2 linked regions of the Homo sapiens genome follow. The protein of the gene in region 2 purifies or fractionates together with the protein of the main gene of each other region. This does not show direct contact. Each region holds a gene or a part of one and is shown on either strand. Other genes may lie near its edges. The genes, in order: PDXDC1 and HS1BP3.

Evidence for each region.
Region 1: the proteins of HS1BP3 (region 2) and PDXDC1 purify together in Homo sapiens (affinity purification with mass spectrometry; 2 studies listed by BioGRID and IntAct, with this or other methods). This does not show direct contact.

What each region holds. Positions count from the first base shown.
Region 1 is NC_000016.10:15,010,073-15,025,057, forward strand, and holds part of PDXDC1 (pyridoxal-dependent decarboxylase domain-containing protein 1), read left to right. Parts: intron 1-248; exon of another isoform or gene 249-325; intron 326-6,056; coding exon 6,057-6,141; intron 6,142-7,047; coding exon 7,048-7,096; intron 7,097-7,248; coding exon 7,249-7,350; intron 7,351-8,767; coding exon 8,768-8,893; intron 8,894-12,631; coding exon 12,632-12,682; intron 12,683-14,985.
Region 2 is NC_000002.12:20,629,272-20,644,256, forward strand, and holds part of HS1BP3 (HCLS1-binding protein 3), read right to left. Parts: intron 11,910-14,985; coding exon 11,702-11,909; intron 9,382-11,701; coding exon 9,165-9,381; intron 9,159-9,164; exon of another isoform or gene 6,962-9,158; intron 5,732-6,961; exon of another isoform or gene 5,445-5,731; intron 1-5,444. UniProt on the Homo sapiens protein: May be a modulator of IL-2 signaling.

The sequences.
Region 1 (14,985 bases), on a different chromosome or scaffold from region 2:
GTCTCACTCTGTTGCCCAGGCTGGAGTGCAGTAGCACAATCTCACCTCACTGCAATCTCTGCCTCCCGGGTTCAAGTGTTTCTCCTGCCTCAACCTCCTGAATTGCTGGGATTACAGGTGCATGCCACCACATCTGGCTAATTTCTTGTATTTTTAGTAGAGACAGGGTTTCACTATGTTGGCCAGGCTGGTCTCGAACTCCTGACCTCAGGTGATCCGCCTGCCTCAGCCTCCCAAATTGCTGGGATTACAGGCATGAGCCACTGTGCCTGGCCTGAATTTTTAAATGACACATTTAAGCCAGGTGTGGTGGCACATGCCTATAGTCCCTCTACTCAGGAGACAAGCAAGATGTTGGCTTAAGCTCAGAAGTTCAATACCAGTCTGGGTAACATAGCAAGACCCCATCTCAATAAATAAATAAAAATAATTGTACTGACGTTGTAAGATTGTTGTAAAAATTAAACAAGAAAATTCATAAGATGTCACACTTAAATATCTACCTTATAGGCGGCAGAGCAACTACCACTTGCTGCTCCATTTATCTCATTCAGCATCATACTTGAAATCTAAGACAGTGCAATAAGGCAAAAAAAATAACTGACAGATTAGAAAGGAAGAAATAAAACTTTGTTTGCAGGCATGATTGTATAGATAGAAAACTAAAGAAAAGCTACTGGAACTAATGATCAAATCTAAACCATTTTCTGGATTTTTACATACTAGCAAAGAAGAATTGGAAATTGAATTTTAAATGTCATTTATAATAGGATCAAAAAAGATGAAAAATTTATGGATAAATTTAACAAAATATATGCAAGATCTGTACATTGAGAACTAAGAATGTTACTGAGAGAAATTCAAGAAGACCCAAGAACGATATGCCATACACACGGGTTGGAAGACTAAGTATTAAGTCAGTTCTTCCCAAACTAATCTGTAGATTCAACTTGATCCATCTTAAAATCTCAGCAGGCTACAATTTCTTAATAGAACTTGATGAGCTAATTCTAAAGTTTATATAGAAATACAAGGGATCTAGGAACAGCCCAAGGGATTTTGAAAAAGAACAAAATTGGAAGACTTACCTTGTCATACTTCAAGACTTCTGTAAAGTAGCAAGTAAGACTGTGTGAGATTAACCAAAGAAAATAGAGAATTCAGAAATAGACTCATGTGAAGTATATGGACACTTCAGGTTTTTACAGATGCCTGAGTAATTCGAGGGAGAAAGGACCATCTTTTTCCATCAGTGGTCTTAGAGCTTGGATATCCATATGGAAAAAAACTGAATCTTAACCCTTATCTTATTCTCTGTATATATAAATATTAACTATAAATGGTTCATCAACCTAAGCATAGATCTAAGACAATAAAATGTCTCAAAGAAAATACAGGAGATCTTTGTGACCTTAGGTTACATTTCTTAGGATACAAAATATGTGAACCATAAATTGTACTTTATCAAAAATTAAAAGCATTAGCTGTTTGAAAGCCCCTATTAAGAAGATGAAAGGCAAGTTACAGACTGGGAGAAATATTTGCAAAACATTTTTTTCTTTTTTTTTTTTTTTTTTTGTCTTTTTCTATTTTTATTTTTTATGTTTTTGAGATGGAGTTTTGCTGTGCTGCCCAGGCTGGAGTGCAGTGGTGCGACCTTGGCTCACTGCAACCTCCGCCTCCCAGGTTCAAGCGATTCGCCTGCCTCAGCCTCCCGAGTAGCTGGGATTACAGGCGCACGCCACCGTGCCGGGCTAATTTTTGTATTTTTAGTAGAGACGAGATTTCGCCATGTTGGCCAGGCTGGTCTCAAACTCCTGACCTCAGGTGGTCCACCTGCCTTGGCCTCCCAAAGTGATGGGATTACAGGCGTGAGCCGCCACACTCAGCCAGCCACTGTCCCAGTCCTGTCTTCTTTTAAAATTTCTTTTTCATTCTTTTCCCCAGAAGCTACAAAACATTTGTTTGACAAAGAACTTGTATCTAAAATATATAAAGAACTGTTACAACTCAATAAGGACACAAGCAATACAATTTTTTTTTTTTTTGGAGATGGAGTCTCATTCTGTTGCCCAGACTAGAGTGCAGTGGTGCGATCTTGGCTCACTGCAACCTCTGCCTCCCGGGTTCCAGTGATTCTTCTGCCTTAGCCTCCCGAGTACCTGGGATTACAGGCATGTGCCACCACACCTAGCTAGTTTTTTGTATTTTTAGTGGAGATGGAGTTTCACCGTGTTGGCCAGGCTGGTCTTGAACTCCTGACCTTAGGTGATCTGCCTGCCTTGGCCTCCCAAAGTGCTGGGATTACAGGTGTGAGCCACTGTGCCCGGCCCACAATACAATTTTTTAAATGAACAACAGATTTGAGCAGATACTTCATCAAAGAAAATGAAAATGTATAGCACTTGAAAAGATGTTTAACATCATTAGTCATTAGTGAAATGCAAATTAAGATCACCATGAGACATTACTACATGTCTGTTAGAATGGAGAAATTACAGGTGGCTCACACTTGTAATCCCAACACTTGGGAAGGCTGAGACTGCGAGATCAATTGCCCTCAGGTGTTCGAGACCAGCCTGGGCAACATGGCGAAACCCCTAGGAAATCTCTACAAAAAATACTAAACATTAGCCAGGTGTGGTGGTGTGTACCTGTAGTCCCAGCTACTCCAGAGGCTTTGGTGGGAGGTTGGCTTGAACCCAGGAGAGAGAGGTTGCAGTGAGCCAAGATTGTGCTACCATACCCCAGCCTGGGTGACAGAGCCAGATCCTTTCTTAAAAAAAAAAAAAAAAAATTCTTTAAAATATAATGTCAGGCCAGGCACAGTGACTCAAGCCTGTAATCCCAGCACTTTGGGAGGCCGAGGCGGGCAGATTACGAGGTCAGGAGATCAAGACATCCTGGCTAACATGGTGAAACCCCGTTTCCACTAAAAATACAAAAAAATAGCTGGGTGTGGTGGTGGGCACCTGTAGTCCTAGCTACTTGGGAGGCCGAGGCAGGAGAATGGCATGAACTCGGGAGGCAGAGGTTGCAGTGAGGTGAGATCGCACCACTGCACTCCAGCCTTGGTGACAGAGTGAGACTCTGTTTCTGTAAAAAATAAATAAGTAAATAAATAAAACTTGCCAGGTGTGGTGGTGGGCACCTGTAGTCCCAGCTACTTGAGAGGCTGAGGCAGGAGAATGGCTTGAACCCGGGAGGCGGAGCTTGCAATGAGCCGAGATTGTGCTACTGCACTTCAGCCTGGGCGACAGAGTGAGACCCTATCTCAAAAAAAAAAGAAAAAAAAAAAAAAAGGCAAAAAACTACAGTGACAGAAGCAGATCAGGATTTTCCAGGGCCAGTGAGGAGTCAGGGAAAGGGTAATTATATTGGGGTTGATGGGATTTGGGGGTTGATGGAAGTATTCTGAATCTTGATTGTGTTGATGGTTACATGCTCTATATATTTGTCAAAACTCATTGGACCGTATACTTACATGAGTGAGTTTTGTTGCATGTAAATCATACTACAATAGGCCGAGCATGAGAGCTCATGCCTGTAGTCCCAGCACTTTGGGAGGCTGAGGCAGGCAGATCACAAGGTCAGGAGTTCAAGACCAGCCTGACCAATGTGGTAAAACCCCATCTCTACTAAAAATGCAAAAATTAGCCAGGTGTGGTGGTGTGCACCTGTAGTCCCAGCTACTTGGGAGGCTGAGGCAGGAAAATCGCTTGAACCTGGGAGGTGGAGGTTGCAGTGAGCCAAGATCGCACCACCGCACTGTAGCCTGGGCGACAGAAAGGGTCTCTGTCTCAAAAAAAAAAAAAAAAAAAAAAATCATACTACAATAAAACTGCTTATTTAGGCCGGGTGCGGTGGCTCATGCATGTAATTCCAGCACTTTGAGAGGCCAAGGCGGGAAGATCACCTGAGGTCAGGAGTTCAAGACCAGCCTGGCCAAAATGGCGAAACCCTGTCTCTACTAAAAATATAAAAATTAGCTGGTTGTGGTGGCAGGCACCTGTAATCCCAGCTACTTAGGAGGCCGAGGCAGGAGAATAGCTTGAACCCAGGAGGCTGAGATTGCAGTGAGCCGAGATTGCGCTGCTGCACTCCGGCCTGGGCAACAGGGTGAGACTCTGTCTCAAAAAAAAAAAAAAAAGACAAAATAGAAAAACCACATAAATATTCACTTTATTGCCAACAGGAAAACCATCACTTCCTGCCTTATTGTTTAAAAACACAAATTCACCCATATTCAATCACATGATAAACTGGAGGGGCTGCAGTTTGCATGTGACTGAGTGACTTGCCAGTGTGATTATGTTGCAGATGTCAGCAGACACATGTCAAGGGTTAGTCACCAGACATTGCCAAGAAATACGAAAAGAGAATCTGCATGCGATCCAGGCACTAACACAGCAGTACGCTTTTATTTTGCTGGAAGAGCCTGTGGCACAGCCCATGCATTGACATTTGATCTTGTTTCAGCTAAACTAAATGTGTCTGTTAAGATTTTTTTTTTTTAATTTGAGGTAGATTTAGGTATGAGGGGAAAAAGTTTTCAGCCCTTTTCCTGGCATAGACCTTACAAAAGAACTACTTTCTTTAGCTGTGTTTGTTGAGGCCGTTGGTGAGTGTTTGAAATCTTTTTAGTTGGCTTACTGCTAACTGGAAATTTAGGACGGTTGGGGGAATGCCTGACTCAACGTTTTAACTAAGCTCTCTCTGAAAAGGGATCTCCCCAGCAAAATCTGTAGTGCAATCAATTACCAAGGGAGCGGCTGAAAGTGCTTAATATGCTTAAGCTGGCTTCAGAATGCATGTTCTGTATTACAAGGAACCTGGGTGGAAACAAAACAAATTCATCTATATGTTTTGTTTGTTTGTTTTTTGAGCTGGAGTCTTGCTTTGTTGCCCAGGCTGGAGTGCAGTGGCACGATCTCGGCTCACTACAAGCTCTGCCTCCCAGGTTCACGCCATTCTCCCGCCTCGGCCCCGCGAGTACCTGGGACTATAGGCGCCCACCACTACACCCGGCTAATTTTGTTTTTGTATTTTTAGTAGAGACGGGATTTCACCGTGTTAGCCAGGATGGTCTCCATCTCCTGACCTTGTGATCCACCCGCCTGGGCCTCCCAGAGTGCTGGGATTACAGATGTGAGCCACTGTGCCCAGCCCACCTATATGATTTTTATAAAGGGCATATCTAAATCAAAATAATCCAGGAAGTGACAATAAAATAAAAAGGTGGAAAAGTTTATCTTGGACAAATGCTGACAAAATGAAAGTACCATAGCCATATTAGTGTGGGATAAAATAGACTTCATATTGATGAAAGATGTAATCTCCTAAAAGAAATAACAGTTATACCTGCTGGGCACGGTGGCTCATGCTTATAATCCCAGCACTTTGGAAGGCCGAGGCAGGTGGATCACGAGGTCAGGAGTTCGAGACCAGCCTGGCCAACGTAGTGAAACCCCGTCTCTACTAAAAATACAAAAAAATTAGCCGGGCGTGGTGGCCACCGCCTGTAATCCCACCTACTTGGGAGGCTGAGGCAAGGAGAATTGCTTGAACCTGGGAGGTGGAGGTTGCAGAGTTGAGATCATGCCACTGCACTCTAGCCTGGGCGACAGTGTGAGACTCCGTCTCAAAAAAAAAAAAAAACAGTTATGAATGCTTGTGAACATAACTTTAAAATATATAAAGGAAAGCTAAAGGAAAAGTCTGATGTAACACAAGTATATATTGACAAACCACAATCTTGGTGGGAGATTTGAATATATTTCTCATGAGTCAGCAGATCAAGTAGATAGAAAATAAGTATATAAAAGAATTCAATGACACAATTAGATACATGTAATAGAGATTACATACTCTTCAAAGCTTGTAATAAGTCAACTCACAAACACTGATTTTAAGTCCTTCCACAAAGAAAATCTCAATAAAATAGGGATATAATAAGTCACTTCCCTCCTAGGGCGATAATGTGTATAAAAGTGTTTAAGGTATAAAGCCTTAGAAAACATTTGTTCCTTTTAATGCCCTGATGTGTTTTATCCTAGGAACGGCAGCAGTAGGACACACAGACAAGATTGGGAGATTGAAAGAACTCTGTGAGCAGTATGGCATATGGCTTCATGTGGAGGGGTAAGCCGGCGGTGAGGCTGGTGGCTCCATTCGGGCCTGCACAGAGTCCTTATGAGGACTGGACATCCAGGCTCTCACTTTGGTGACATTTATCACGAAGGGCTCTTTGGGTCACAGATCACAAAATAACCCAAATTGGCTTAAGCCCAAAGAGATCTTACTGGCTCACATAACTACAAAGAGCAGTGTTATGACTGCCTCAGGCACGACATCAACCAGGATCCAGTGTGTTACTCCCACCTCTGCTCCCCCAGTCACAGGCACTGGGCTTGGTTTCCTCTATCTGTGGACAGATCTTCCTGTTACAGTGCAAAGTAGCTGCAGAAACTCCAGCCTTCTTTCCAGCTTCGTGGTCAGCTGGAAGTCCTAACAGAAGTCTCGTATTGAACCAGCCACTGTGGCCAGGGAGAAGTAATCCTCTGATAGTTGAGGTTCTTTGCTCTCCTCTGGAGCAGATAGTGGTGTCTCCTCCCCACAAAGCTCATGTTCTGCTGGAAGAAATGGAGATGGCGCCCTGGAAGGCTATTGTAGGGCCATTAAGAGAAGCAGGGGGAACGGACGTGGGCAGCCAGAGTAGCCCATATCCACCACATCATACAGGGAGGTTTCTTTTTGATCCCTAAGTAAAGAATGATAACTGGAAAATAAGATCCATGAAAGAGAAGAATACTCCCATTATATTAAATGAGCGGGGATAGTTCCTGAGACACATTTTTATTAAAGTGCATTTTCAGGATTTTCCTTCATATGTATAAAGCACACCTTCTGTTGCTGTTAATGAAAGCTAATAACATTAAAAATATACTTAAGTGTCAACTTGCAACAGCACAGCCTTTATTTTTTTAAGTACATGGTGAGTAAGCAACATTAAATAATTAGTTCTTGGACTGGTGTTTTTTCTTCCAGTGTGAATCTGGCAACATTGGCTCTGGGTTATGTCTCCTCATCAGTGCTGGTATGTTGTTGATTTACTGAATATTGGTGTTTTTAAGAATGAATTTAAAGTCACTCAGTCCCTCATGGCTCTTCACAGTTTTTATGAATGGAGGAGGGTGTTAGGTTTGTGTATTCTGATAATCTAACAAAGAGTTGTTCTTGTTTTGGTAGGCTGCAGCCAAATGTGATAGCATGACGATGACTCCTGGCCCGTGGCTGGGTTTGCCAGCTGTTCCTGCGGTGACACTGTATAAACACGATGACCCTGCCTTGGTAAGTTTCCACTCACTGGGGAGGGAGTGGGTGTGGCTAATACACATTATTGGCTTTGGGGGCAAAATCCAGAAAAATACAGGAAAAAGTGAAAAATACCCATAATTTCACTTCTATTTCATTTTTTTAAAGAGAAACTTGTGAGACTTTTTTTAATGACATTTTATGATTGTATAATATTCTGTCACAATTTAATTATTCTCCATTTATGAACTTATAGGATGTTTTCAGAGTTTTGTTACTGAAATAATGAAGCAGTGAACGTCTTTCTGTGTTTCTAATTATTTCCTTAGAATAGGTTCCCAGATGTGGAATGACTGAGTGGGGGAGTTTTAAGCCTCCTGATCCACATTGCCCAATAGGTTTTAACTTTTTTTTTTTTTTTTTGATATGGAGTCTCGCTCTGTCACCCAGGCTGGAGTGCAATGGTGAGATGATCTTGGCTCACTGCAACCTCCACCTCCTGGGTTCAAGTGATTCTCTTGCCTCAGCCTCCCAAGTAGCTGGGATTACAGGCATGCGCCACCACGCCCGGCTTATTTTGTATTTTTAGTAGAGGCAGTGTTTCACCAAGTTGGTCATGTTGAACTCGCGATCTCAGGTGATCTGCCTGCCTCGGCCTCCCAAAGTGCTGGGATTACAGGCATGAGCCATCACACCTGGCCACATTTTTTTTTTTTTTTAATCGTAGTTGTGGGCCAGGCATGGTGGCTCATGCCTGTAATCCCAGCACTTTGGAAGGTTGAGGCAGGCAGATCGCTTGAGCCTAGGAGTTTGAGACCAGCCTGGGCAACATGGTGAAACCTCATCTCTATAAGAAAAAACAACAACAAAGAATTAGCTGGGCATGGTGGTGTGAGCCTGTAGTCCCAGCTACTCATGAGGCTAATGTGGGAGGGCTGATTGAGCCCTGGAGATCAAGGCTGCAGTGAGCTATGATCACACCACTGCACTGCAGCCTGGGCGACAGAATGAAAACGAAACCTGTCACAAAAAATAATAATAATAATGTGGTTCTTGATAATATAGGTCAGCGTGCAAAATAAGGTTTAAGTGATTTCTGCTAAAACACTGCTGTCTTGCTCAGCTAATAATGGCCAGGTGTTTGAGGATGCTCAGAGCTACCTTCGAAGTGGGGAGTCTCCTAGGTTCTGGGATGTGACCCATCTGGGTTTTCCACTGGCTTTTCCTGGCTTTGCCACTCCTGAGCTGTGAACCCTTGGACAAACCGAGGTCTCTGAGTGAAGTTACCTAGAATACTTAGCTCACAGAGTTGTTGGAAGATCACATGGATAATGCAAGCCTAGTGACTAGTATGGCATCTAGCCCACACTAAGTGGGTAGCAAATGGTAGCTGGTTAGTTCTATTATGAGATTGCAATGGCTTTGATTAATAAACCTCTTTTGGCTTTTTTAGACTTTAGTTGCTGGTCTTACATCAAATAAGCCCACAGACAAACTCCGTGCCCTGCCTCTGTGGTTATCTTTACAATACTTGGGACTTGATGGGTTTGTGGAGAGGATCAAGCATGCCTGTCAACTGGTGAGTAGAAGCCTGACATTTAAATGAAAGACTCCTTGGCCACAGCAGAGACAGAAAAACATCTCATTTCTGTACCTTCCATCCAGAGTGGTGTTGTCTGGATTGACTGTCTCGTGAGCCAGAGACTAATCGCCCTGCATGTAAATATTTCTTGTTCAAAGTTCTGGGAGAAAGTGCTGGGTTGTCTGTCCCAGCATTTGTGTGCAGATGAAATCAGATGAAAAGGAACACCACTGTCAGCATGGGATCAGAAAAGAAGTCACAGATGACTTCCAAGGAGTGGAGAAGGGTGCAAAAGGTGGAGGGGTGGGGAGCGAGTGTTCCCCTTGATTGACTGACTACGGTGAGGGAATAGGAAGGTTACAAGGTGGTTATGGAGGGCATGGATATTTTATAAACCAGCTGGCTTGGGTTTCCAAATTGCAGGGCTCTTGGGGACAATTCTAATTCTCTCTCCATTTTAGGTGTGTTCTAATTGTGAAAAATATATAATTATGCTATATTTCAGTGTTTTAGAGCATTCAGGCTTCTATAACAAAATACCTTAGAGTGGGTAATTTATAAACAACAGACATTTATTGCTTACAGTTCTGGACGTGAGAAGTCTCAGATCAAGGTGCCAGGAGATTCCATGTCGGGCCCGTTCCTCATAGATAGTGCCTTGCATGTGGCCTCACATGGCAGAAGGGGTGAGCACAGTCCCTTGAGCCTCTTTCAGAAGGTCACTAGTCCTGTTTGTGAGGGTTCCATCCTCATGCCCTAATGACCTCCCAAAGGCCTCAACTCATTTGCGATTAGGTTTCCACATAGGAATTTTGTGGGGACATAAATATTCAGATCATAGCATTTAGAAAGCAAAAAAACAGGCTGGGCATGGTGGCTCACGCCTGTAATTCCAGCACTTTGGGAGGCTGAAGCGGGTGGATCACAAGGTCATGAGATCAAGACCATCCTGGCTAACACGGTGAAACCCCGTCTCTACTAAAAATACAAAAAATTAGCTGGGCGTGGTGGCGGGCGCCTGTAGTCCCAGCTGCTCAGGAGGCTGAGGCCGGAGAATGGTGTGAACCCGGGAGGCAGAGCTTGCAGTGAGCCGAGATCGCGCCACTGCACTCCAGCCTGGGTGACAGAGCGAGGCTCCGTCTCAAAAAAAAAAAAAAAAAAAAAAAAAAAAGCCAAAAAACAGGGTCATGTTTACTCAGGGTTAGAGCTGAGCCCTCCCTAAGCTCAGAAGTGCGTCACCTCCATTTTCTTACCTGTGAAATATAAATTATATGACAAGGATTGCCAGGATGGCTCGAGGAACGAATACAGGTAGAGCTCTTGCAGTAGTGTCTGTTCATATAGTAAGTTATGCACGTGGGTTGAAATCTTTGTTTTAAATATATTCTTGGGGAGTTAGCACTTCCTCAAGTATCATTTCTATATTTAAGAAACATAGGTGGCCGGGTGCAGTGGCTCACGCCTGTAATCCCAGCACTTTGGGAGGCCGAGGTGGGCAGATCATGAGGTCAGGAGATCAAGACCATCCTGGCTAACACGGTGAAACCCTGTCTCTAATAAAAATACAAAAATTAGCCAGGCATGGTGGCGGGTGCCTGTAGTCCCAGCTACTTGGGAGGCTGAGGCAGGAGAATGGCGTGAACCCAGAAGGCGGAGCTTGCAGTGAGCCGAGATTGCGCCACTGCACTCCAGCCAGAGCGAAACTCAGTCTTTTAAAAAAAGAAAGAAAAATAGGCCGGGCGTGGTGGCTCATGCCTGTAATCCCAGCACTTTGGGAGGCCGAGGCGGGTGGATCACCTGAGGTCAGGAGTTTGAGACCGGCCTGGCCAACATGGTGAGACTCCGTCTCTATTAAATATACAAAAATTAGCCAGGTATGGTGGCAGGCGCCTGTAGTCCCAGCTACTCAGGAGGCTGAGGCAGGGAGAATTGCTTGAACTTGGGAGGCAGAGGTTGCAGTAAGCCAAGATCGTGCCACTGCACTCCAGCCTGGGTGGCACCATCTAAACACACACACACACACACACACACACACACACACACGAAAAGTATTTGCGTAGTGCTCTAGCAGTAGTCCCTTCGTTCATCATATGTTAGGATAGTTCAACAGTTTTAAGTATGCTCTGGGCTGGGTGCAGTGGCTCATGCCTATAATCCCAGCACTTTGGGAGGCCAAGGCAGGTGGATCACTTAAACCTCAGAGTTCAACACCAGCCTGGGCAATGTGGTCAAACCCTGTCTCTACAAAAAATACAAAAATTAGCCAGGTGTAGTGGCACACACCTGTGATCCCAGCTACTCAGGAGGCTGAGGTGGGAAGATCACTTGAGCCCAGGAGGTCAAGGTTGCCGTGAGCCCAAATAGCACTACTGCACTACTCCACTCCAGCCTGGGCGACAGAGTAGGACCCTGTCTCAAAAAAAAAAAAGAAAAAAAGATTGATGCTCATTATGTTTACAAAAGCACTGCATTTTTTGAAAAGTGTCTCACTGTGCTATTAGCTCACTTCTTGAGATGTGGTTCTTAGGAAAGAGAAGCCTTAGTAACTTAGTTTAGAGACGACTTGGGCACTCGGGAGATTTTTTCAATATCCCGTGGCTATGGAGTGCGGGAGAATGATGCCATTAACTACCAGACCCTTGAGGTCAGCACAGCTCTGGCATCTTCCTGCAGGCAGAACCGTATACTCCTGAGGATTTGAATGCTGTCCTGCTGCTGACTCACAGGCTAATAAATGCATGTGTTAAATTACTTGGACATTTAGCAGACATGGTGATCTGTATATAGCCATGCCTTATAGTCCACAGTGGAGCATACATTTCCTGAGAGCGTAAATCAGCATTCGCCTCCTCATCCTCCTCTTCCTTCTCTTCTCCCTCTCTTCTTTCTCGTCTTCAGTAGTTATTGAGCATTCACCTCAGTGTCAGGCACCATGAAGTACTTTCATGCATCATCTCATTTGATCCCTGCAACTTCACTAGAATGTCAGTTCCACTGATGACAGTGTATTCAGAATTAATTTTCTTTAAGAAAACAAAAAGGAATTTCTTGAGGGGCTTTCTACTGTCCAGTACTCAGTGAATATCTGTTGAATTAATATACTCCAATCCCATGAGTTAGATATGATTAGTGATGAGGGACCTGGGATTGAGACATTAGTCTAATGACACTACATTCTAGACCCTGTTTCTAAGCACTTCCTGTATTGCATATCAACTCATTTAATCCTCACAGCAATGTGAGATACATACTATCCTCCCCATTTTATAATTGAGGGAACTGAAGCATAGACAGGTTACATAGCTGGTGACTGGCAGATGAATTGACTTATCCGTGGTCCTGCAGGTGATGAGTGGCAGCACTGTGCTCTTATCACCAGCTCTTGAGCGTGCTGCATCCTCTCATTTGTCGTTGGTCTCCCCTAGTGTTCAGTACTGTGCCTTGCACGTGTTTATACTCAGTAGCTTTTGAATGACAGACTTACATTGCAAATACAACAGATTTCCATGTCTTATTAGAAACTGCTTTTCTTGAATTACTACATGTAACTTGAAGGATTGGTGAATATTTACAGTTGTTGAAATACAAAAACAGGTGGCTGAACTTAGAAACCACCAAGTGGCAGGTGACTTTGCCTGACATCCGTGTTCACAGACCTCCACAGCCCCTGGTGAAAACCACTTCTTCATGTCCCACGTCCATCTAATTACATGTGTTATTTTTTGTCATTTGCAGAGTCAACGGTTGCAGGAAAGTTTGAAGAAAGTGAATTACATCAAAATCTTGGTATAGTATATAAGTTCATCTGTTTTCAAAATATAACTTTTTTTGAACCTCAGCAACTTTGAATGATTTTAGAACTTTAGAATGATTTTCTCCACATTTCAGTGGAATTGTGGCAGCTCCAGTAAAAAAACAAAACAAAAAAACGAAACAAAAAACAAAAACAAAAAAACCTGCTTATATTTATACAGTGAGTCTGAAGCGAAGAAATTTGAACCATACAATGTTTAATTCCTATGGTGCTTTTCATGTACTTCATTTATTGTGTTAAAGTTCAGAATTGCACAAAGATAAACACCATTGACTTCAGCTGCCCAAGGCCTTGGGCACACTCTTCTTCCCAAAATGAAAAGTCACTTTGTGCCTCAGAATGCTTTGGGGTTCTCTTTCTGCAACCTTCTGCCATCAGTTTTCATTTGCATGAAGTGGGAGAAAGAGAAAAGCAAATGGCCCTGCTCTTGTCTTCTGATATCTTCCTGAAGTGAATCCAACAGATTGTTCCCTAGGCATAACTAGACAAGGAAATAAGGACTTAGGAGAGAATGGGGATCAGTTCAGGTTTGAAAGTTTTTGTGTTTTGCTTCATGGTATTTTAGAACTTCAGGAAATATATGTCAAATTCTGATTTAAATAGGTTCATTGAGTGTTTCTTTGACAATTCTGCAAGGTATGCTTAAGTTTAACATTTGAGTGTATTTGGGGTTCAAGTCAGTAGGTTTATTTTTCTTTTAGAACATGGTTTGGTTTAAATACAAAAAGTAGCCGCGCATGGTGGCACACGCCTGTAGTCCCAGCTACTGGGGAGGCTGAAGTGAAAGAATTGCTTGAACCCGGGAGGCGGAGGTTGCAGTGAGCCGAGATTGCGCCTCTGCACTCCAGCCTGGGTGACAGAGACCCTGTCTCAAGGAAGAAAAAAAAATGCATGGTTTGGTTGAAGGGGGTGTGGCTACTCTGCCTTCTGAGTGGGAGTCTGGAGCCAGTTGACCCGAGTTCTAGCTCAGTGGGAGTTCTATCCTTGGACGAGGAAGTGGACCACTGGAGAAGCAGAAGGGATGAATCTAAGTTCAGAGGCCTGGGCTCTGCTCTGAGCAGTGCCACAGGGTGGCCCTGTGACATTGAGTCATTTTCTTTCCAAGCTTGACTGTCAAATGAAAGTATGCCGGTTGGTCTCCTCTGATTGCAAACAGAGAAGCAAATTATGGCCTAGATTGAGCAAGCTGTTAAGAATCCAGGCGGTGCTGGGCCCATCTGCTTTCCTGCCCCTGCCATGTTGAGCGCACTTGGCTTTTCCTCAGTCATCGCTGCTCCCTTATTCTCAAATTGGGGGACCCAGTGGTGCTAGTTAATCACCAGTTGTTTTGGAGCATCTCTGTAGGCCACACTGGCCCAGGCAGAAAGCCTGCTCTGTCCCTTCTTCCAATGGCTGTTTTTTCAGTAGAGGATACAATAATTGGCTAATACCATGAGGCATTATGGCCTGTGAGTCCTCATCATCACCATCACCATCACCACCATTCCAGCTGCTGCTTGTGAAATTCATGTGTGGTACTAAGTACCTTACATGAATTATTTCATTTAACCCTCCCAACAGTCTCCTTTGTATGTGCTGTTCTCTCTGCCTGGAAACACTGTTTCCCACCCCCCGTCCCCAATTCTTCTGTTTATTTTTTTTTGAGACAGAGTCTCACTATGTAGCCCAGACTGGAGTGCAGTGGTGCGATCTTGGCTCACTCTAACCTCCGCCTCCTGGGTCCCTGTTCAAGCAGTTCTCCTGCCTCAGCCTCCCGAGTAGCTGGGGTTACAGGCGCATGCCACCATGTCCAGCTAATTTCTGTATTTTTAGTAGAGATGGGGTTTCACCATGTTGGCCAGGCTGGTCTTGAACTCTTGACCTCGTGATCCACCCGCCTCAGCCTCCCAAAGTGCTGGGATTACAGGCATGAGCCAAAGCGCCCAGCCTCCCCAGTCCCAATTCTTCTCATGACTGGTTTCTTATCTTTCAGATCTTAATTCAAATCTCACCTCTTCAGAAAGGCCTTTCCTGGCCACCCTAAGATCATCTCCCACCGTCAGACATCACTCCATCCCCCTGGGTCGTCTTCATCACTCTTACTACTATCTGAAATCAAATCTGTTTGTTTTTTCCTATAGAAGGTTTGTAAAGGCCTTATACAGACTCACCACTGTGCCTCACCTGGGCATTAACACCCAAGACCCTAGCCCTGAAAGCCCAGTGCCAGGCCCCAGACATGCTCCCATCCCCTGCCACTCAGCTTACAGTCCTCTTTCTGTTTCCTCTTCTTTGT
Region 2 (14,985 bases):
TCACTCGGGGGCCCCCTCAATCCTCTCCTCCCTGGTCCTCCTCCTCCTCCATTCCTATATCAGCATCCACCCAGCTGTCTGCAGGCGCAGGGCCTGGCTCTGCAGTGCCCGCCCTCCAGCCCGCCCTCTGCACTGACAGGAGACAAAGCCCCTCACTGACATGGAGGAAGGGTGCCCTCTTCTCCCTTCATTGGAAGGACAGCTGGTCATGATTAGAATCTTGTCACCAGGGATGGGGCAAAAGGGGCTTCAAAGAGAGGTCTGCAGGGAATAGGACTGGAACTGCAGCTCCTGGCTTCCTGGTGAGCACAGGGTTCATTGGAACTAGTGCAGGCCATGAGGGCCACCAAAACATGAGTTGGGCCCACAGAGGTTGCATGAGGTAGGTGGGGTGCTCCTGGATGGATTGCAGGCATGTGCTGGCATGTTCTTGTTGCATGCACATGTGTGCATGGACAGACACCCGCTTTCCTGCTGTGTATTCCTGACGGCAGACAGACGCGCAGACCAGGCCATGTTCTGCAGGCGGGCGTGCAGCATACGGGGTGAGAGGCGGCAGCTGCCGCGGCTGACAGCTCCAATGCTCAGACAGGCTGAGCAGCAGCCTGGCTCCCTGTGGCTCAGGCAGTTCTGGTGACAGTGATTGACACATAAGAGCATCCACCACTCTGGCCACCCAGGGGGCCTGTGGCACCATTCCCAGATGTGCCCACCCACACAGCAGACCACCAATGGGCACCAGCTGCTCAGCACCGGGTGTACATGCATGGCAGAGGCATCTCCTAGACACAGCCAGCTTAACTGGGTCTGAACAGAAGACTGCTGATCTTTCCACAACTGAGACACATGGACAGCATGAGTCTTCAAAGCCAGGGTGCAGCTTAACCAAATACGGAAATCCACCTCCTTGCCAATGATGCAAACTGCGTGCTTTAAACTAATGCACTTTTCATACTTTATTCTTAAATTCAGCTGTTTGGTGTCTTTTTGTTTTTTGGGTTTTTGTTTGTTTTTTTGAGACAGGGTCTCTGTCACCTAGGCTGGGGTGCAGTGGCATGATCACAGCTCACTGCAGCCTCGACCTCCTGGGCTCAAGTGATCCTCTCACCTCAGCCACCCTAGTAATTGGGACACAGGCACACACCATAACACGTGGCTAATTAAAAAATAATTTTTTTGTCGAGATGGAGTCTCGCTATGTTGCCCAGGCTGATCTCAAGCTCCTGGGCTCAAGTGGTCTTCCCGCCTTGACCTCTCAAAGTCCTGGGATTATAGGCAAGAGCCACTGTGCCTGGCTGGTTTTATTTTTTCAATGAGAAAATTCTCAGAGTACCAATAAATGGACTTCTGAAATTCACACCAGGACAATGTTATTTGCAACAGCAATGGGCTTCCTTGGAGAAGCAATCACAAGAGTGAGAATCACCTGAGGACAGGCACTAACCCTGGGAGTCCAAGCCAGCCTCACTGGACAGGGGCTTCAGAGAAGGCCAGGATGGAAAAACGAGCAGAGTCACAAAAGCTGTGCTCCGGGCAGAGAGAAGAGCCCATGAAAATGCCAAGGTGTGCAGAGCCTGGCATAGTGAAAGTGCCCAATAGCTGGGCAGCAGGTGCATGGAGGGAGGGTCTGTGGGAATTGTTGGCCACCTCCAGTGGGGCCTGGGGAGATTCTGGCCTTTGCTGAGAGAGGAGCAGCAGAGGGGGATGTAGGAGAACTTGTATAGGATCTGGACCAGTCACTCAACTTCCCCAACCATGTTTCCTTACTGGAGGTCAAAGGGAAGAAGGAGGCAAATGACACAGAAATGCTTCGCAAGCTGCCAAGTGGGTCCTGGATGCAAGTCAGCGCAGGGCCGTGGCAGAGGTCTGGGGTCCTGGGAGCTGCCTGGTGATGTCTAGGCTCACTTATGCTTTCTACTCAGCAGACTTCACTCTGGGCCTTAAAAAGCAAATGGGGCCAGGCCAGGCACAGTGGCTCATGCCTGTAATCCCAGCACTTTGGGAAGCCGAGGCAGGAGGATCACTTGAGTCCAGGAGTTCAAGACCACCCTGGGCAACATAGTGAAACCTCATCTCTACAAAAAGTAGACAAAAGTAGCCAGGCATGGTAGTGCATGCCTGTAGTTCCAGCTATTTGAGAGGCTGAGGTGGGAGGATCAGTTAAGTCTGGGAGGTTGAAGCTGTAGTTAGCTGAGATCACACACCACTATACTCCAGCCTAGGTAAAAGAGTAAGAACCTGTCTCAAAAAAAAAAAAAAAAAAAAAAAAAAAAAAAAAAAAAGGGGCCAGCCAGGGAGGTCACCATGAACGTTTATCATTTGCTATGGTCCCCAGAGTCACATTCCAAGGACCTGTTTCTCAACAGCCAGAGCCCACTCTCCTGGCCACTGAGCCCTATCTTGAGGGGCCAGGACTCAGTGACAATCCCACCTGAGCTTGTGGGTGATGCCATTTTTCCTTCTCCACAATGGGGCCAGAGACTGCCCCTCACCCATCCTGGCTCCTGCACCACCAGGGAACCACGTGGGTCCCAGCTGCAGGTCTCTGCAGCCTACATTCTACAGCAAGCGCCCAGTACCCCCAAGAGCCTGAATACACAAAGGGACAATGGCCAGGCCACATGTAAAGGTGGAACTCTGACCCACAGTCTGCAGTAACCTGCCCAGGAAGCCAGACCACAGCCTCTGCAGCAGTCAGCCCCAAATGGCCAAGATTTGATCAATAACTGCCAGCTTTCCTAAATTTTTCCCCATTTCCAGTTTAGTAGGACCATCCAGAGAAAGCCAAACATGCCCCACTTCCTGCTCACAGAGGACAAAGGATGCCCCACTTCTCATTGGCTGCTTCTGGATTCCCCATGCCAATAACCTCCAATCAGCGTGTATCTGAGCCTTCCCTTTCATCTGCTTCAAAGTGTCCCACTCCCCTGCCTCTCTTTGCATCTTTGCCAAATGCAGGTGATGGTGGCCGACACCTCCCTGGTCGCAGTAAGCTCTGAGTAAACAACCATTGCTGGTTCTCACATGGGCGCTCCTATGCCCCTGATCCACTCCAAATGGTGACACGACCAGCAGACAGCTAGCTGTCCTTGCAGTGGGGAATGCCCATCACCCATGTCATCAAAAACCGAGAGTGAACAGGTGAGGGCTGAGAAGTCAGTCCCCTGGCACAAGTGTTGGACATGGCCTGGGGAAAAAGGGAAAAGTCCTGGGCCAGCAGTCAGGAGACCCCCAGCTCTTGCTCTCATGCCCTCCTGTGTGATCCTGGGAAGGTTCCTCAGTCGTAACAACAGAGCCTGGATCTGATCTGCAGTCCTCAGAGCGTAAAGGCTCTGTCATCCTAAGAGTGTTGTTACTTGCCAGAACTTGCCACAACGGGTCCTGGGGGAGCCTGAGGCGGGAAAATGGCAAGTGTGACCTCCCAGATTTCTATCTCTCAAGGAACCAAGCAACCACTGAATCCCACTAAGGATTCAGGTAAGCAGGCTCCTTCCTCCAGGGCCAGGGGCTGCCCCACCTCCAGAATCGCCTGCTCTAGGAAGCTGTAACAGGTGACAGGTGTACCGGCGCTCCTGGAGGGAGGTAAAGTCATAGTGTGCACATCACAGTGACTGATATTTGCATAACAACTATAGGAAGTGGAAAAGCTGCCTTTTATATTCATATTTCAACTGTTGGTTAAATACACAAAGACCTCTTTAGAGCAAAGTGAATCTGAAATAGTGATAACATTTTACAAAGGAACTTTCCTGTAGTGCTCCATCTCATTTTATCCTTTCAGCCACTGGGCCTCTACTTTACCCCTACTCTACAAAGAAAGAAACAGGCTTGGAGAAGTACAGCAACGCACTCAGCGTCCGCCAGCTGAGTGGCAGAAAGGGGATTTGAACCTGGGACTGCCCATCTTTAACCCTGCTCTGGGGGTAGCCACACATCCTGGGGGTTTCCAGCTGCCCCACTCACTGTCAAACCATACTCTAAGGGGCCCTCGCCTTCTGCAAAGCTGCCCAGGGCTACCCCAGGAAGTGGGGCTGAGGCTGGAGGGACAAAGATCCAGTCCTCACTTGTCCCAACCAGGGGAAATCCTACTTCAGCCTGTTTTATGTACTGGGATTCTGGATGATATTTCTCTTGAGCCAAAGGTTTTGCTACTGAATTTAAAAAGCAGAAACCACTGGTACATCTGTTGTTCCTAACAGCCCATTCATTCAGGCAGGACTTTGTGCAGTAATCTGTTTTTTTGTTTGTTTGGTTTCTGTTTTGTTTTGTTTTTGAGATAGAGTCTCAGTTGCCCAGGCTGGAGTGCAGTGGCACAATCTCAGCTCACTGCAACCTCCGCCTCCCAGGTTCAAGCGATTCTCCTGCCTCAGCCTCCTGAGTAGCTGGGATTACAGGCGTGCCCCATCATACCCAGCTAATTTTTGTATTTTTAGTAGAGACAGGGTTTCACCATGTTGACCAGGCTGGTCTTGAACTCCTGATCTCAAGTAACCTGCCCACCTCAGCTGCCCAGAGTGCTGGGATTACAGGCGTGAGCTGCTGCGTCCGGCCACGGCAGTAATCTGGATGGGGAAATGCAGTTGGCATGCACACTGTGCTGCTGTGATCACTGTGACAGCCTGGGTGGAGTGCCGCCTGCGTGACGCTGCAGGGCAGCTGTGGCACCTGCCTCCTCCTTTCCTTATGGCTTTGGGTCCCCAGCCAGGCCAGGGCTAAGTGCTGCACAGGTGCAGGGTGAGGTCGGGCCCAGCCATCCTGGCTCGTGGCCCCCACATGAACCCCAGGATGGCACAGCAGAGAACTCGTCCAGCAGGTGGGTCAGCAGACGAGGGAAAGCCCAGCCCGAGCAGGAGTTGCTGGGGAGCAGACAGTACCGGAAGTGCCTTCTGGACACGCCCTGTCCTCAGCCCCCTGTGGGCGGCAGACTGTGGTGACGGCTGACCTGCCACTCTCCACACCTGTTTCCTTTCTGGCATTTCCAACACTTTAACAGAATTTGGTTTCTGGGAATTCTCAAACAGGAGCTTGCGGAAGAACCAACTCAAGAGCTTGTTAAAACACAGATTCTGGGGGCCCTACCCAGATCTGAGGGGGGCCTGGAATCTCTATCTCTGCCAAGCTTTCAGTGGCCCAGAATCCCTAGGTGGTCTCTGTTGCACTGGTGGCATCAGGGGAGCCCTGGGTGCCCAGGCTCAGGCTGGAATGAACAAAGAGGTGCCAGGCCCATGCGCAGTGGTCGGGATATTTAGCAAGAGGCACCCTCGGGGAAGCAGCTCCAGGGCACCTCAGGAGGTGGGACTGAGGCCCTGCTGTCCCCACAGAGCTCCCCTCCACGGCTCACCTTAAGGGACTGTCTTGCTGCTAAATCTTGGGTTAGCAAATCTGGGAGCACCTGGCAATGTGCCAGGAGCATTCAAAACCACAGAATCATTCCAGAGAAGTGATTTCATCCAAATATAGAGTAAGATATTATTTTTATACTAAAATACATGTGGTTGTTTTATGAAAGATGAAGCAAAATCCATATTAAAAAACAACCATAAAACGTGGCATTCCAGAGAAACATCCAGCTTCACCACGGAGGCCACAGCACGGGGACCCGGGTGTGGGCTCCCCCTTCCAGGGAGTCTGGGAAGACCAGCTTTGCAGGCAGGTGCATTTGTTCATACAGGAGCCAGCCTGTCCCAAGGACGCTGTGAGTCCTCAGGGACCCAGGGCCTGGAGGGGGTCCCTGTGTGCAAAAGAAGAGGTGGGAGGAGTGGGCCCTGAGGGCGGGGGTGGGCAGGGCTTAGAAAAGCAGAGGGGCCTCCCAACAGAGGGGCTTCAGCCCTTAGAGAACCTTTTACTGGAATGGTACCCCAAAGCCCCCAGAAGCAGCTTCAGGGACCTTGCTCTGGGGCACGTATATAGGGGAAGGCTCCATAGAATAAAAGCTTTGTATATGTAGAAGTTCCTCAGGTTATTGCCTGTAATAGCAAAAACCTACAGAAAACCCCGCCACGCCCACAAGCAAGGGCCTGGTAATGCCACTTACAGCCCATCGAGCTGAGAAACCAGCAGAGGAAGGAGGGAGAGTGCAGCTATTGATCTGGAAGGACCTAGAACATGTAAGCTGGAAAAAAGCAAATTCCAGAACGGCACACAAGACAATCTCATTTTGGCAGTAAGATGTGAATATTCAAAGGTGCATTCAGAAATTCACAGGGAAAGGACTTTTATCTGTGTTTGCAATTTTTCTATACTAATTGTGTGTTATTTGAGTCACAATGAAAAAGGTTTCCCGCAGAGGATTTCCAGCATAAGGCAGAACTATTAGGGTAGAATGTCAATTTTCTCAGCACCGTGACATTCTAAAATAGAAACTTAAATACAAAACAGGGGCGACATGGAGCAGCAATCGGGACAGACCATAGGGTGGAAAAGCAGAGTACGAAAAGGCACGTGCATTGTGCCTGCGGTTGCATGGATGCTGCTGGGACGGGGTCAGAAGAGAGCCCCAGCAGATGGAGAGAGCGGTGGTGTTGGGATGGGCCGAGGTGAGGGCTTTTTCTATCTTTAATTGCTCTCTAATGGTGTAATAACGCTCTCTTGTCCCTAATCAAAACCAGGTTTAAAAGACAAAGAAAAGCCAGGCCGGCCTGGGCTCCGGCTTTGTGCTGGCGACTCCCACCCTCCCAGCAGCCCTGCCGTGGAGCAGCCCTTCAGCAGAGCAGCAGCGCCTCGCCGCGGCCACGGCGGGGAAGGACCGAGGCTGGTTGCATGGAAATGGTGGCCGCTCCAGGAGAGCCCAGAGCTAAGCCCAGACATGGGGCAGGGCAAGCTGGGAAACGGGTGCCGCTGCATCTGCACAGGAACCAAGCGCACGGGAGGGAGAGGGGTGCACAAACAGCCTCCCGAGAAGAACAGAAAGTCCCCCACCAAAGGGCAGGTGGGTGGCACCAAGAGAGATCAACAAGCCCACCTGGGTGTCTGTGAAAGGCCGAGGTGGAAACCCAACTTCAAGGTACGGCTCTGCCACACACACAGCTCTGGAACACACACGGCTCTGGCCAAGATCCTGCTCAACTCCTTCCTCGATTTTACCATCTGTGAAAGGGGGATAATCCTGGGGCCCTGCCCACCTCCCAGGCTGATAAAGACTGGACTGGAGATGGCGTGGGGTCCTGGCTCTGCCATCTGCAGGCTGCAGGAACGTGGACGAACCACCTGACCCTGAACTTGAGTTTCCCACCACACAGAAGAGGCTGATGCCAGTGCAGGCCTCCAGGGCTCCGTTTCTTGACCTGTGCCCACAGTGGATCCTGAAAGCAGTTTGGCGAGTCATGACCTTTCCAAACGTTGAAATAGAATAGAAAATATCCCAGTACAATACACTTAGTAAGGTTTTGTATGAGTTCTGGGAACTTTTGCTTCAGTTTTATGGGATGTTTATACATGTGTGTCCTGGGTCATGGCGTACCATATAGTTTTTACTATGGGTTGTAGCAAGTAGTTTCAGAAATGCTGTCTTACAGATATAATGAGATCATGCAAGCAAATGCTAACTTAGTTCCCAGCATTTCATAAACTCTCAAAAAATTTACTTATTATTCCTGACAGAGGTGATAACGTTGATTCATCAGCACCTTGTCACACGGGTCCTTAAAAAGAAACCCCAGCAGGGGAGGGTCTTAAGCCGGCAGGATTACTCTTAGGTGCTAAGCTTTCCCAGGATTCAGGGGTGAGGGCCCCAGAGTACAGAGCTGGGGAGGGGGCTGCCCCCGCCCCCCCCGCCCCGCCAAGGGGTCCCAGGATAGCTGACACATCTCCCCTGACAATCTGCTAATGAAGTAAGTAGGAAGTTCAAGGCAGCACTTGCCAGCCACAAAGAACATTTTCCTACCCAAAAAAGGAGCCGCTCGGCTAAGTGTGTTCTTCAGCCAAAGGTTGGCACAGACCACCAAAGTCCATCTCGGTTTGGCACTACGTGTGGTTACTCAGAACAACAGAGAATGTGAGTTCAAACAAAGCCTCACCCTTACCAAAATAAAGCCCAAGAAAGGCCTGCCGCGTTGGGCCAGGCTGATAAGGAGTGACTATTACAGGCTTGTCCCCATATCACCCACTACTCTGGCTGCCTCTCCCTCAGGGCCGCTGACCCCACTCAGGGACAAGGCCAGCCACGGAGGGCCAGGAGGAGCGACTGCAGGGCACTTGCTGTGCCCAGGTGCCGCAGGACCCCAGATCTCAGGCCTGTTTCTGCTGCAGCTCCCTGAGCGCCGCGTACCCTTTCCCAGTGCAAATCCTCACCCCTGGACGCTGGTCTCATGGCCACCCTGCAGCCCACCCTCCCATAACCCTCCCCACGAAGAAGGCCTTTCCAGAGTGGGCTGTGATTTTAGGAGAGAATTCTACATGCTGATGAAGTTGAACTTGCTTCTGCCTAATTTCTACTGGGCTCTAATTCCTTTCTGCGGCAGGACCTACACTCATCTGGCGCCCGAGGGCTTTGGTAAACGGCTAAGAGACATTCGTTGTGGTAGAGAGCGGGGAGGACAGCACCCCTGGCCTGGTCTGATTCCACTGAAAGATGGGGCCATGATGGTAGCTGATTGCTAAATTTACATAACTCAGTTCATCGTCACAGGAGCCCTAAGAGGTTGATACGACCATGAGTCCATTTTCACTGAGGAAAACCGAAGAAAAGAGATTGTAAATGGCCAGAGATGTATGGCTGGTGAATGGCCCTGTGTGGAGGCAGGGCCAAGGTGAATGCTCCTGCTATGCAGATGATGCAGCCCAGAGAGCCGCAGCCACCTCTGCGAGTCCCACAGCTGGAAGGAGCACCCAGTCCTCCCACACTAGCCGGACAGGCCCGCAGCCTGCACTACTGAGCTGTCACGGAGGACTCTACCAAGCCCCAGTGCGGAGCCACAAGTGGAGGACATCCTGTGACCCGAGAAGGGAGGCGACACCTAAGCCCAGTCCCAGAGACATGCACACCACCAAGGGCACGCAGAGAGCTACTTCCCCCAACACACCAGGCCAAGGCCTCGTGGCCCAGATCCCTGCGAGGGGGCGACCTGGGATGCTCAGGGCTTTTCTCAGATTCCAGGGAAGGGGGACGTCATCTCCAGAAAGCCTGGAATACACCAAAGGGGCCCTCTCAACAACAGGAGACCAACCGCATAATGCCCAGAGGGTCCAGCGCCTCCTCCTCCTCCAAGGATTCCTCAGCATCCTCGCCCTTCAGGCTCTGGACGGGCGGACCCTCTTCTGCCACTTGGTCTTGCTCCTCAAAAAAGTCGAAAGCCTCTTCATCATTCCCTGTCTGACTGTCTGTGCCATCCAGGACAGAGGAATCTCTGCTGGTGAGCCCTGCAGCCCCTGGGGATCTGGTACCTGTGGAGGAAGACAGAAAAGAATGGACTTGGTAACCACCCCAGAGCCAGGGGAGGCATCTTGCCACACTGCACCCTCCCATGCCAGGATCTGAGGCCGAGGGCTTCCTGCAGCCTCCTGGGACCAAACTCGTCCCTCCTGGGACCTAAGCAGGATGGCGAGTCTGGGTGGATGGAAGGTGACCTCCGTTTCGGGGGCAGCCAAGTGCCTGCTGCAGCCCCCCAAGGGCTGACGGGCACCAAGGAAGCCTGGAGTGGAGTGGTCACAAGTGGGAGCTTCAGAGCAAGACAGGGGCAGCGGTTCCTGAACCCAAGGCCCAGAGCCTGTGTGCGCCGCAGGGATGGCTGCACCCTCCTCCCGGGTGAGCGGTGGGATACAACAGCCAGGGCACAGGGTGATTCAAAAAGAACCAGTACAGCCAGAACCATTTACAGTTGGAGGCACGGCAAGGAACTCTGCAGACAGAGACCTGCCCCGAGAGTCTGGGCACCTGGACTGTGGACTGGATGGGTGCCCAGGGTAAGCATGTGGAAGATTCCAGAACAAACGGTAATCACTCCATTACAAACTGGCTTAGATGAGCGCTTCTTGAAGTGTGGTCTTCAGACAGAGAATGCCCCCTGTGTGACCACAATGAGGTAAGTAGAGAAAGGGAGAGCAAGCATCCAGAAACTTCATAGCATGCTGCCATCATCACAATACCCAAGTGTGCTTTTGTATTTGTGAAAGTATCCATCTGTGACAGGCTGGGAATAAAAGAGCTAGCCCTTGCCACAGATAGTTTGAGAAGCGTGGGCTCAGACTATTTGTTCATTTCTATCCAAGTGCTTACTGGGTAGTTTAAAACAACTGACTTTTAATAAAATCACCTTGTAGGTAAAGAACTTAGAGAGTGTCTGGCATACAGGATGCACTGAGTGATAATGACGATATCGTATTATGTGATGCTCTGTTATTTTACTTGGACAAATGTGAAAAGCCATTCAAAATCTCCCAAACCTTCAATTTCATGTCATAAGCATCTTACATTTAAACATCACAAAAGCCCTATGAGAGAGATCCCTACTGTACATCCATCTTGCAGATGAGCAAAGTGAGGCATAGAGCAGCTTGTGTTTCTATCCTGCCTCTCCACCAGAGAGGGGCTGGGACATCCTGAGCATCTCTTCCAGCGATGGCTGAGCTGGAACCTCTTGGCACAGTCTACCCAGCCCCAGAGACAGGCAAGGAAGGAAGGGTTGTGACCTTGGAACAACAAGGGCAGAAGAGAACCCAGACCCATGTGAGGGGCCCAACATGGCCACAGGACACCGGGGCTGTGCAGCTTGTCCAGTCCTAGGCCTGCGCATTCACCAGTTTTGCTTCTCTTCCCCACCTTTCACTTTAAATAATTTGTTTTATTTACGGTCAACTTTCTTTTGAAAACTTCCCTTCTGTCTTGTGGAACTAGGAGATCCACAGTAGCTGGGAAGGAGTTAAGCAGACGGATGTAAAGAGGGGAGAAGGGGTGGGAGTCCGGCACCAGCAGTGGTGAGAACCTGCCTTGTCCTGGGGGCATCTGTGAGACCAGGGCCTGCCCCACGGGGGTTCTGGGTTGACAGGACTAACCGAGGAGTGGGGTAAAATTGTAGCCACTATTTACTGTGGTTGTTTCTGTTCTAAGGACTTTGCATGTGTTAGCTCTGTAAATTCTCATAACGGCCTATCAGCCAGGCTACTCCCACCTTACAGATGAGAAAACTGAGGAGAGAAGACAGGGCCAGGACACCCATGGGAAGGGCTTGACGTCTCCACCACTGGGGGCAGGGGTGCTGGATCAATTCCTCAGCCCGGAGCTGTCCCCATGACCCTCTCTGTGGGGGCACAGGTGAGAAGCACATGTCCCCAGGGGCAGGTCACCAGCCAGGCTGTGAGAACACAGCTTTCCCGGGATACTGCAGGTCCCTAGGGCTGGTTGGAGGAGGCAGAGGGGAGTGTGGGGTGTGTGTCAGGGGGTTGTATGTGGTGCATGGTCAGTCGGGGGGTGTCGGGCAAGCTCTAGGAATGGGGCTGGCCAGGAAGGCCATGGATGGGGTCACACTATGGAGAATGCCTGCTGTGTGAGCCCCCACCTGACAGCCAGACGTTCAGTCCCTCAAGGGTAGGCCTCCTTCTGCCCACCATCCAGCCAAGGATGTCAGCGAGGCCACCTGCCTCACCAGCCTGGCTGAAGCCTCCAGGCTGCAGAGGCAGCTGTGGACATGCTCCCACTGGGGCACGGCAGCGGGGCCTAGTTCTGGGCCGGGGAGACCTGAGGGACATGGGGCAGAGCCTTGGGTACCTAAGAACTCTAGCAGCTCTGGGCTGCCTGCCAACTCGGCATCCTTGGAGACACAGCGCAGGATCTCATTGAACACGGCTCTCCTCTCCCGGATGTCAGACTCCCCAACAAACAGGACCTTCCTGGGTAGTGGGGGGAGGCTGGCTGCTGCATAACGACTGCTCAGTTTCTGGTAAAACTCCTCAATCTCGCTGTACTTTTTGGAGACCTGGAATGAGAGGAGCATGTGGTTTCCTGAGTGAAGAGTGGCAGGCAGTGCTCCTTTCTCACCCCGACCAGGGGTTCCCAAGGCCCAGCAGCCAAAGGAAGTGTGCCAGGTACGCCCGCCTGCTGCCCCTCTGCCTGTCTCCCAGCCTCAGGCTCCAGTCCTTAACACGCCTGGCCGATAGCAGATTCAATAAAAACATCTTAGTGGCCCAGAGGAAAGATGCAATAACGGTGCCATTCTGGACACTGTCACAGGTCCAGTTAACAAGATTTGATACAGGGACCCCTGCCCAGCCTGCACGTGATCAGGGCCACTGTGTTCATTCCCAGCTTTCTGCATATCAGGAGGGTGATCTCACCGGCTGGCAGGTCATCTTCCTGCAACACCGTGAATCATCTGTTCTCAGCACCAACCTCATTCTCCCGTGAACCAGTGTGGCCTTCGGCGGGCCAGCCAATGCAAGCAGTGGAGACAGATATTTCCAAGGCTTGTTCTCTGCCCTGCGTCAGGCAGGACCTCTCTGCACGCAGGCACCCGAGTCAAGCAGGCCAGGACTCTTGCTGTCATCAGAAGGCAGCCTTGAGCACCATCTGACTCAGAGAGGGCAGCACTCAGCTTCCCGTGGGGCCAGCGGCTGACTCCCGCTGCCTCCTTGGCCTCTCCCCACAGCTCCTGGGCAGCTAAGCCTTCACCCCTTCACTCACGGAGCTCTTGCTGCATGTTCACTCTGTACAGAGACACCCCAGCAGGCTCTCAGTCTCACAGTGGTTTCAGTGCCATCGCCGTGTCTGTAACCATGTGGGTGCTCAGCGAAGTCACCTGCTGTATACACACACCATCGGCCTGGCACCTACCCTCACTCCTAGCTCCTCTATCACCTGCTGTATGCACACACCATCATCCTGGCACCTACCCTCACTCCTCGCTCCTCTGTGCTTTCCCCATAGACTGGGCCTGTCTCCCCCGACTGAAGTGTGGGTCACTCACTCTTATGCTCCCAGGCCCGGACTGTGCCCACAGTGTGCCACTGGAGTGCTGGCGTGCAGGGGCTGCGGGCATCTGACGCCCTCGGGCTCGGGGAGATCCCTTGGTGCAGGGTGTGTCTGGAACACACATCCTTGGCTCCAGCAACACCACCCAGAATGCCCAGCCTGTGAAGGGTCAAGATACCAGGAGGCAGCTGGGGGGATTTCAGAACCTCCAGTGGGGAGTCACCTGGGACAGGTGCTGCTTGCAGTTGTCAGCACAAGAGCCTGGCTCCAGACTTTCCTGAAAACAGCCCTCAGGGAAAGGCACACGGACCCCTTCCCAGAGCGATTGCTAACACAGGCTCCGACAGCAGCTGTGACTCCAGCCCGGCCCGCAGAGCAGGCCACGGTGGGGGCCGGGCGCCCCCTGCTGGCCCGACTGCTCCCCTCAGGCTCAGACCACAGACCCAGCATATCCAGGCTCGGGGAACCTCCATCTCCAGGGCACTGGCATCGTGAGTACTCCGGAGCTGTAGGCCTGGGCTCCCACCCCACCCAGGGCCCACGTCCATCAGGGGTTCAGGCAGGGCTTCTTGGGTGGGCATCTGCACCAGCAACAAGAGGAGGCCAAGTAAGAGACCCTGAGCAGAGGAAGCTCAAGGTTGAGAACTCACATTTATCTGGTGCCCCCGTGTGCCAGGCACTGCTGAGCACGGGGCAGACAGCCCTGTAACGTTAGTAAGCTTGTGGGTGTCTGCACTGCTAGCACATCCAAGAGCCTGCACAACCTCCACTGCGGTGCCCCCTCCTGCGGCTGTTTTACTCCATGGTCAGCAAATCAGTACACGTTTATATTAAAACACATATGCCCTTTTAAGTAGATACAAAATGCTCATTAATTCTTTGAGTTAATTCATGAAACATCAAAGAGACTTCAGGCTTGGGGGTATGTAACTTTAGGCTCCATCCTGAGATCCCATGGGGAGTAAAGGAGTTCTTTGCCCTCGCAAGTACTTTCAAATGTCTGACAAGCCCCTGCACGCACACACTCCACGAGGAGTGGGCGTCACTGCCTAGGAAAAAGTGGCACTAGTGTGATTCATGGAGGTGTTAAAACACCCTCATGTACACCTTGCATGTAAGGCCGGCCCTCTGCACAGAACCAAGTGGGCTGGGCGGCTGAAGCCCAAGCTTCCCAGAATGCTCCCTCCTTCATGCCCCGCAACATCAAGCTCAAATACTCTCCTCTTCTGCTCCTGTCTCTGAAAATGTGGGTGCATTGAGCTCCAACCTGGATCAAGTCAAATTACCAGGAGCTGCAAAGCACCCTGTAAAGCAGATTCACTCTCAGAGCAATGCAGGCCCAGAATCACCCCTGACATCACACGTTGCTTCTCACCAAGAGTCGGCCACAGGAGCAATCAAATGAAAAACAGCATTGCTATTCTAGACGCTTCTCATGACGTTGTTGAATGTCCCTTAAAATTGTGTGGCTGGGCGTGGGGGTTCACACCTGTAATCCCAGCACTTTGGGAGGCTGAGGCAGGAGGATTGCTTAAGCCCAGCTTGAGGAGTTTGAGACCAGCCTGGACAACATAACAAGACACTATGTCTACCAAAAAAATTAAAAAAGAAAAAGCTGGGCATGGTGGTGTGTGCCTGTAGTCCTAGATACTTAGGAGGCTGAGGCAGGAGGATTGCTTGAGCCCAGGAGTTCCAGGCTGCACTGAGCTATGATCACACTACTGCACTCCAGTCTGGGGAACAGAGGGAGATCCTATCTCTTAAAAAAAGGAAACATTTGTGCTGTAAATTTCTCTTAAAATTTAGTGTCTCTTTCAACAGGTCACCAGAAAGATGCAACTCATCGTTTCCCTTTTTATCTTGGTTGCCAGGAGACTCCAAGCTAGCCCCGTGTCACTCCCTGCTGTACTTCGGGGTCTAGTTCATTTCACCTTTGTCCTAATAATCCTGGACCTGTGTCTCTTGGTCTCCAGCTGCAGGTCCTTTTCACAAGAGGCCAAATGGTAAATAATAAGCCAATGAGTGTGTGATCTCAACCCTCTTGAAATTCTCTCCTCCCTTAGCTCCTCTGACTCCGTAGATAC